Regions from separate parts of the Homo sapiens genome. Here region 1 is linked to region 2. Evidence: fine-mapped expression QTL. A gene starts in region 2. The other region holds a variant in brackets. All regions are shown on one strand. Distances are from middle to middle.

The links. PIP is the estimated chance that this variant, and not a neighbour inherited with it, causes the effect.
Region 1: its variant is fine-mapped to the expression of NALCN in fibroblasts (GTEx, PIP 0.96).

What each region holds. Positions count from the first base shown.
Region 1 is chr13:101,380,086-101,384,489 of GRCh38, reverse strand. All of the region lies in intron 3 of NALCN (sodium leak channel, non-selective), which reads left to right. Among named protein-coding and RNA genes, the nearest start is that of NALCN, 34 kb to the left of the region's middle. The variant C/A (reference allele first, on the strand shown) is at 2,564.
Region 2 is chr13:101,413,986-101,418,389 of GRCh38, reverse strand. NALCN (sodium leak channel, non-selective) reads left to right here and starts at 1,882. Exons shown (of 44, transcript NM_052867.4): 1 at 1,882-2,077. RefSeq lists enhancers at 1,980-2,530, 2,531-3,081.

The sequences.
Region 1 (4,404 bases), 34 kb after region 2:
TCACTGCAAAATATATCCCTATAAATGTGTTTCCTTTTTCTGCTTGTTAAATACTTGCATGATATGTTGTTACTTTCTTACCTTATCGTTGATTGGCAGTCTTCAAGTGTTTACCGTTATAAAAATTGACATATACAGCTCTTGAAGCACTCCTCTCCTCAGCCACCAAAGTGCTGATTTTTGCGCATAGCTCAAGCACTCTCTGCCCTCCATTTCTTGTTGATGGAACAAACAAATTAAAACATTTTTTCATATTTAAGGTGTTAAAATATCTTGAGTACCACTGGGCATTCATATGTGTTAGCTTCTGGTTGCATATTTTAGAATTGGGTTGCAAATATTATAACTTGAGCCTCAATACAGTAGAATTTTAAAGGATCTGGCCATGCTTATAAATGGAATCAAAGCAACTTTGACTACTATGGCTAGGGCTTCTGACGATAATTTGATAAATGTGCCAGATACAAAACATAATCCAAGATTGTATTGCAAAGTGTCAGATTTCAAGGTCTGCATTCTACTTATTTAAAAGTATTATAAACTTATTGTGCCTTAGCAATTATTGATAATGATTAATATGATAGTAATTTTAATTCCTACCAGTTCAATTGTATTTACAATCATGGTAATGTATAAAATATGTAAACCGTAACTGTATTTGCATGGCATGTTTAGTTCTGCTTATGCAAACTATGCTAATCCAGGAAGTATCCATAAGTCATCTCATAATCTCGTCTGTGATCTTTCATGGTTACAAAGGAGCCAGAAAGGAATAATTTCTTTTTAGAAGCATACAAATAATTTCAGTGAATAGATGGATGGATGGATGCATTCATTAAGAAATATTAACTGACATCTTGCTGTATACATTGTATATTAACTGACATCTTGCTGTATACACTGTATCTAAGACATGGTTCATGTACCTATCTCATCATTCATTTAATATCTGCTATATGTCACCCACTGTACTGGGTGCTGCAAACACAACCTTAAATTATCCGACTTAAAGTCTCAGGGTGTTACTCATCTTCAGAATACACTCAAACATTTACCATGAGAGATAGACTTCTTTTTTTTTTTCTAATGTAACTCCAGAGAATACGTTCAGAGAAGATTTAAGTAGGAAACTCAAACTTCACCATCAGATCCAATAAGTTGGAGAGACCAAATATAAATTCATGAAATAACCAATATGGATTACAAAGGCATATTCTGCGAGTAACACAAGATGCACATTATTTATATACATGAGCTGAGTTGTCAGTTGTTGCATGACGCCTGAGTTAAGGTGATCAGAGGAGGCTGTAGTCAGATCACTCTGGAAGGAAAGGTTGGCACAGACTTGGCAGAATTTTTCGGGAAGATGGACAGCATGAAAAACAATGAACATTAAAAAGCCAAAGATTTTTTACAAATGGAAAAATGCTGAGGGTTGCTGGCCTTTGTATCTTGGGTCATAACTCTGCTTATAAAAGATGTTTATGAATATTGAATGACTCTTGGAAACATGAGCCAAAAAGTAATACATGAAACTTATGCCCAGAGGATTATTTCCATACTTCACTGGGAAAATAAAAAGAGGTCAATTCTGATTGACCACTGCATACCATCTAGCATGTGCTGAGCTTGTTGGTGACACAGGAATGCCACTATATGTTTCTGAAAAGTCCAAGGCAGAAGACATTCCAAACAAAACAATTAAATTACTTCCTATGGAAAAGAAAGTTTTCTACATTACATGGTAGAATTTTTGCTAAGCCAGTTTTTATAACTGAGGTCGTTCGAAATTAAGATGTTTGTATGCTTCTAATTTCTGATCACCACTGGTGCTTCTAAAATGATTTAAAATAATTCATTATTTTATATAGTTTGAAATGTAGTGTGGGCCAGTTTTACAACATTAATTTCCTTAGCAAAGAAATCAGAAACAAAAATTCAGTCACATCTGTTATTGATAGCTTTTCATTCTGAATTGGTGAGGCCCCAATTTTTAAATTTAAATTTATTTTTGCCAACTGGAGAAGTGATTTTGTTAAAGCTAAAATGTCCAACTTAAAAAAAAAATTGAAAAGCTATTTTTAAAAATTTAACATGTAAGCATTGGTCCAAAAACATATCAGAATACATTGTGAAAAGCATGTCTCTCCTCCACCTTTGGCTCCTGGCCATTCACTTGCCCGCCCCCCTCCCCATAACACAAAGGGAAGTATCACTGTTTATCCTCATTTGTTAACATTGTAAATGTACCTCATTGTAATGGTGAACTCTCATTCAATGTTCCACCGAGTTTAATTCATTTCTAAAGCAAATTATGAGCAATTAAAAAGAGGGTAATTGTAGTGCTGCTACATATAACATTGTTAATGACAAAAATGAAATAAAATAGTAATACTGTTTTGAAAAAGTACAATATAAATTCATCCTATTTGGGTGCCCGTGTACTCAACGATCTATAATTACTCTTTTCCTGCCTAATATGTACTCATTCATTGCTCCAATTTTAACATAGTTCTCTGCTGAGTCCCATAAAATTTCAGTTTTCGTTTTTGGAATTCTTTGC[C/A]TTTTTAAAAACAAGTGACAACTCTGCCTAGTTCTTAAAATAAAGATGAAGTGATACTTTTCTTTTTTTTTCCCTAACACACAAGTAAAAAACATTTGTTCATTTAATAAAAGTCCATTTGAAAATATACACTTTTATTTTTCTTCATGACACTTGTCAACATATAACATAATGAATATTTTATATTTTATTTCATTCAGAATGTAAATTGCTTAAAGACAGAAGCGTTTGTTTTGTTCACCCTCGTATCCCTAGTTCTTGAACACTGCCTAGGTTAAAGGGATGCTTATGAGCTGAGGGAAAGAAGGAAGTAAGGGAGGGAGAGAGGGAGGAAGGAATGAAGGGCACAACTTTAAATAATTCATCTTCTATTACCTTCTTGGGTATTAATCAAATTTAGGCTCAGAAAAAGTCAATTTTATATGGGCTATGTTATCTGTATTTAGATTATAATTAATTTACATTTTCAACTGTGCAATATACGAGGCAAGTATGATGCTTATAGTTAAAGATCCTCTGTGAGATCTTTAACACAACTATTAAAAAATGCAACTATAAAAAAAGTTGAAGATGACTATAAAAAATCCTTACGTTATTTGTTATATATGTAACCTTTGTGATGCGTTTATGTGTAGCACATAAACACCAGTAGCATCGGTAGCATCCTAAGATGCAGCTTTTCTCTTCCTTGGGTATAAATCTTCATATGATGATAATCACACAATTTAATAAGGCCATTGTCCTTCTTGTCACCCAGAGCCAAGCTTCAGAGTTTGCTTTCATATCTCTTTTGTGAGTCTTCCCAAACCCAGGAGTCACCAAGTTTGGTTGATTACCTTGCCCCTGAAAACATTATTTGTCCGTTCATTTGGGAATTAACATTGGTTTCTCTAAACTCCCCATAGAATTAATCTTACCATCTTTCCCACCATGTTTATAGCTTTAAGTTATTTTGCTTTATATACTAGCTGGATGTGTTCACATCTGTTTTTCTACAAGACTGTTCTTTTGGTTGTTGGTGGTGGTGATGGTGGTGTGTGTGTGTGTGTGTGTGTGTGTGTGTGTGTGTTAGCTAGGCATTATATATCCTCTAATGTAAAACAGGCACTTACCCAGTGTTCATTAAGTTGAGTTTATACTTCATTTTTGGGTCAAATAACTTCCATTAAGTGTTTTATCATAGTGTTAGTTTTGCATACACCATAAACTATTTCCAGAAACCTCTCAAGGAGATATTTGGATACTTATTTGTTACTAAAGGTAGAGGCTTATGTCAATATCCTGCAACATGTTTTATCATTTGATTTGAAATCTTGACATTTTATTTCTATTTTCATTTCCCTAGCAGGTTTAATCAGAGGAGGTAATGATATATGTGACTGAATTCAGAATTGACTTACATGGATGATTACAGAATTCATGATTTAATGGGATAGTCCTAAAAAAGCAAAGGCTTTTCTGTTTAAAGTTTCTAATTTTTAACCTCATGAAGTTTTCTGTTTTATTATTCCAAAGGCATTTTTTAAATTCCCATGTTATTAAAGCATTCTAATGTCAGAATAGATACCCTATTAAAAAATGAAAGTGGTACATCTTTATCTTTCTTTTACATATGCAATCCCAATTAAAATTAAAGTCAATATGTGTTTTCCTTGCAAATTAAGACAAGTTTCTTCTTCACTTTTTTTTGTTAGTCTTGAATTCTATTTTTATTACACTGTGGTCCAAGAGAATGGTTGTTTTGATTTCAGTTATTTTGCATTTTCTGAGAGATGTTTTATGTCTGATTAAGTGTTGATGTTAGAATATGTGCTATGTGACAATGAGAAAAAATGTATATA
Region 2 (4,404 bases):
ATTTGTTCATCCTTTCTACTTTTGCTTTGAGGATGCAGTGAGCTATAATCACATCAATGCACTCCAGGCTAGGCAACGGAGATAGGCCTTGTCTCTAAAAATAACAAAGAAAACAAAAGAAGAGAGATACTGAGCAGGTAGAAGGGGTACTATGATATTTTGGATGTACCTGTTTTTTAAAATGATTGTCTACTCCAATACACAGTGAATCCCTATGCATTATAGGATGAGTGTGCTGGATTCCATGACTTCCTTGAAGCCCATGAATTCTCTGAGACTGTCTCCATCATCATTGGGATTGTTTGGCTCATGAGCATGAATTATAGAGACTTAACAGAGGTAGTTCAACCAAGGACAGAGAAAGGTCTGAAATGCCTGTTGGGTGAGGAGTGGCACTGAGATTAGTAAAAAATCACTGCCTTGACCACTTCAAAACATTATAAATAAATGTTTAAATATTTCCTTAATATAATTTACTAACAGATAATTCGAACGAATGTCAAGGAATAACACACTATCATTCAGCTACCATATATATATAGCTATATATTTCAGTTTGTGAAATAAACTAGTATTTAGAACAAGCAATTGAAAGCCGCAAATAAAGATGATGAAACAAGTTGGTAAATACTTTTTCTAAGCAAACTGGTTGTAGATTTAGCATTGTTTAAATTACTGTCAATTTTTTCTTATGAGGAGTGATTTCATCATTTGTTTAAAACCTGGCTTTTGACACAGTTTTTCTGAAGTCTTTAGAAATTTGAAAAATTATCTCGCATGACTCTGTATTTCATGAAATACCAATATTTTAACATTTCCCTGTAAACAATAAAACGTACTAATATGGATTATGAATGTGAACAAATTGTGAATGGACTTTTTAAGAAAGTAGATTAATTAAATATCTGTAACCAGAAAATACATTTTTAAAATGTAGGTTTGTGTAGTTTTACTTCTATACCTTGCCACATAACATTTTGTGATAGACAAATGCTCTTTGTTTAGAATTTCTCTTGTAGAGAAAGCTTCATTCAGTTGTTTCTTTCCCTTTATTTATATGCCTGTGTGCATGATGTCTAAATCACTGGTCAGGAGTTCCCTGGGGATTTTCGTATCTGACTACATGGCAAGATTCCAGACCCAAAGTAAACCTTTCAGAGAGTGGGAATGAGTGGGAGGATGTCGCCCTGGGCATGGTGCTTAGGAGGCCAGATTTCCCTAAACCTGCTCTGCTGGGAGCCCTAGGAAGCCTCAGATGCAGTCTGCTGTCCAGGTATACTCACAGGGTATGGGGTGGGGGACTGTCAATTTCTGAATAGACTTTGTCTCATCCACACGACAACATATTTTAATTTTAAAGGCGAACGTCAACCTATTTAGAAAACTATAAGTGTGACTGATGCATTCATTATTTAATAACTCCGGGGTGAAACTTGAGGTGAACGGTTTCACCCTTTCATACTCAGGAATGGAACTAGTCCTCGGTACCGTGCACAGTCTGACCTCACGCTCGCACGCTGGGCTCCCGGCCTCCTGGCAGTGCACTTAAGTGTACCCCGCGTGTGCCCGGCGGACTCCCGTGCACACCGCCGCCGTGCTGTTGAGTACGAAAGACCCCCGAGAGGAGCTCGCAGATGAGAGCCTAGCTGTTGCTGTGAGACTGACTGCGGGTGGCAGCCGGCAAGAAGGAACTGCCAGTACCGACCCTGGCGCTCCCCACCAACTGCGGCGCAGCCTCCTCTGCGGTGCCCGCCCTTCGGCATCACTGCAGTCCCTGTAGCAAAGCTAACTTTAAAAATTTAAATAAAATAATAATTTTTTAAAGGCCCGAAAACTCCGGCTCCCACCCCTCCCCCAGCCTGCCCGGCGGCGGCGGCGCTCAGTGAGTGACACGGCGAGCGTGAGCCGCGGCCCCAGCCGGGCCGAGCGCGCTGCCTGAGCTGAGCCGCCGTAGGTGAGGGGCCCGCGTCCCCGCCCGCCCTGGGCGCCGCGCCTGGCACTGATCCTGCCGGTCGCCCACTGTCGCCGCCGCCGCCGCCCGCGGGCACCATGACAGCTCTGAGCGCTGGGGTTACAGGTTGGTCACCGCCGCCGGTGCCCGGGAGGCTGCGGCGCGGCCGGCTCCGTGCCCTGCGCCCGAGGCCCGCGATGCGCGCTCGTTAGTTCCTTGGCCGGTCCGGGCCAGGACGGCTCAGGGGCGCTGGGGCTGCGAGAGGGGCTGCTAGAGGGGCTGCGGGCGGGGGCCCCGCGCGGGGGAGGGGTGGGGAGGGGCGCCTCCACCCGAGAGCGGGGCGGTGGGGTCCTTGCCGGCCTGGCCGGGGCGCGGGAGCCGCGATGCGCCCTCCCTATTCCTGCGCGTGGGTGTCGGGGGCGCCTGCCGCGGGATGCCCCTGGGCTGGCTTGGGAAGCCCAGGGCCGGCGACACCTCGGGCCTGCCCCGCCTGGGCATCTAGCAGGTGTTGGGGGGCAGGTGGCTGAGGACGAGGCCACTGGGCATCACTACAGCGCTGCACCTGCCCCCTCGGCACCAGGGCCGCTGCCTGGGTAAACCTCTGGGCCAACGCGCGGGTGGGGAGGTGGGGGTGGGCAGCCTGGCTCCAGCAGGTCTCCGCGGGGGCTCCGCGGCCTTGCCCCACCCCCATGCTCCTGTGGATTGCTCCTTGCTAAATGTCCCTTATGATATTCATTGGCCTTGTTAAGCAGCCGTCATTAGGGTGGCTACACCGAACGCAAAACAGTGTCCTGCCAAGCAACACCATTTTGTCACTGAATCTTTAAGACACCAGCAAGGATGGCCTGGCTGGGATCCCTCTGGGGGCCCAGATCGCAGTCATTTTGCTGACTTAATGTTCCTCTTTCAGGATGGTGTGAGAATGCTGAACTCAGACCCTTAGTGCTTGAAATACCTTAGAATAAATCTTTCAGTTTCAGGTACAATTTTTCAGACACTGTATTATTAAGGATGTGTGAATACACGCTCACTTTCAGGCCTCAGAAGGTTTTACTCTTAATCTGGTGTTCGTGTGGTCATCAGCTAGGCCCGACTGCCCTGGTGGTGAAATGTGGGTTGAGGACCAGTGACCTTCGTGTTAGTAGTTGGTGGATAACACCTCTAATAGGGGATCAAAAATTAACAGGTGGCGATTTTGAAATATATATGTATGTATATATATATATATATGTGTGTGATTTGTATGTTCATAACTACAACTGTGATTTGATATGGCCTGGGAGAGGAGCGGTTTCACTATGGTAGTTACCCCTGAGGCAGATGCATCTCAGGACTGGCTTTTTAAATTCAAAGATAAGGTTTCCACAGTTCTAAATAAAAATCATGGCTTCCCAAACATCTGCAACGAGAAACATTTACTCCCTAACTGGTTGGCTGTCATTCTGCGTGCTTTTCTAGAGTCGATTTTTCGTTCTTCTGTAGTATACTTTGACCTAGCCACTGCTAAAACCAGACAGTGTGAAGACAAAATCCAGCTTTGGAGAAAAACTTAAAAAGTGAAAAGGTTCAGTTGGATCCTCTTCTGTGTTCATAGAAGACATAATCTGTTTGCAGAATAAATGTGCCGTCACTGATAAGGACTATGCTAAAATCTCTACAGAACTCTAGGAGAAAGCATGTCTTATAAAATAGTGGTTGTACACTTATAACTTTGGATAGGACTTGCAAGATATTCAAAGGAGAAATGTACTTAAAAAATGTACTTAAAAAAAGTCTACTCAAAATAGTGTCATTTAGTTGCAATTTAGTGAACTGAAGATTTGAGTAGCATTTTCTTCTTCTTGGGTATGGCATTTCTTTGAAATGGTTTCCAGGTGATTTTATCATTCCGGCATGCTTTGTGTGTGCATGTATGTGTATACACAAATGTACACATTTGTTTTATCATTTATCGATGATGTTCAGATAATTTCAGAATTTCCATAGCTGTATAAATTTATCCCAGGTCAGAGTCACATGTGGATTTCAAGTTTGTGAATGAAAATTCACATCTACACCTCTATATCCTAAGATAAGCTAAGCACTGGGCCAGAAGCTGGGTGGTGAGTGAGAAAAAGAGATAAACTGAGAGCCTAAGAATCCTTCAGGAAAGACAAATATGTAAGCAGGTGGATATACAGTGAGATGTCTTATTTTCTAGTTTTGCTGTGGAAACTATGATAGTGAGCTTAAACATATTAAGAATGGTCCCCAAGGCCACACACGGTGGCTCATGCCTATAATCCCAGCACTTTGGGAGGCCAAGGCAGGCCTATTGCTTGAACCCAAGAGTCCAGACCAGCCTGGGCAACATGGTGAAACCCCGTCTCTACAAAAAAAAAAAAAATTCACCAAGTGTAGTGGTGTACACCTGTAGCCCCAGTTACTTGGGAGGCTGAGGTGGAAGGATCGCG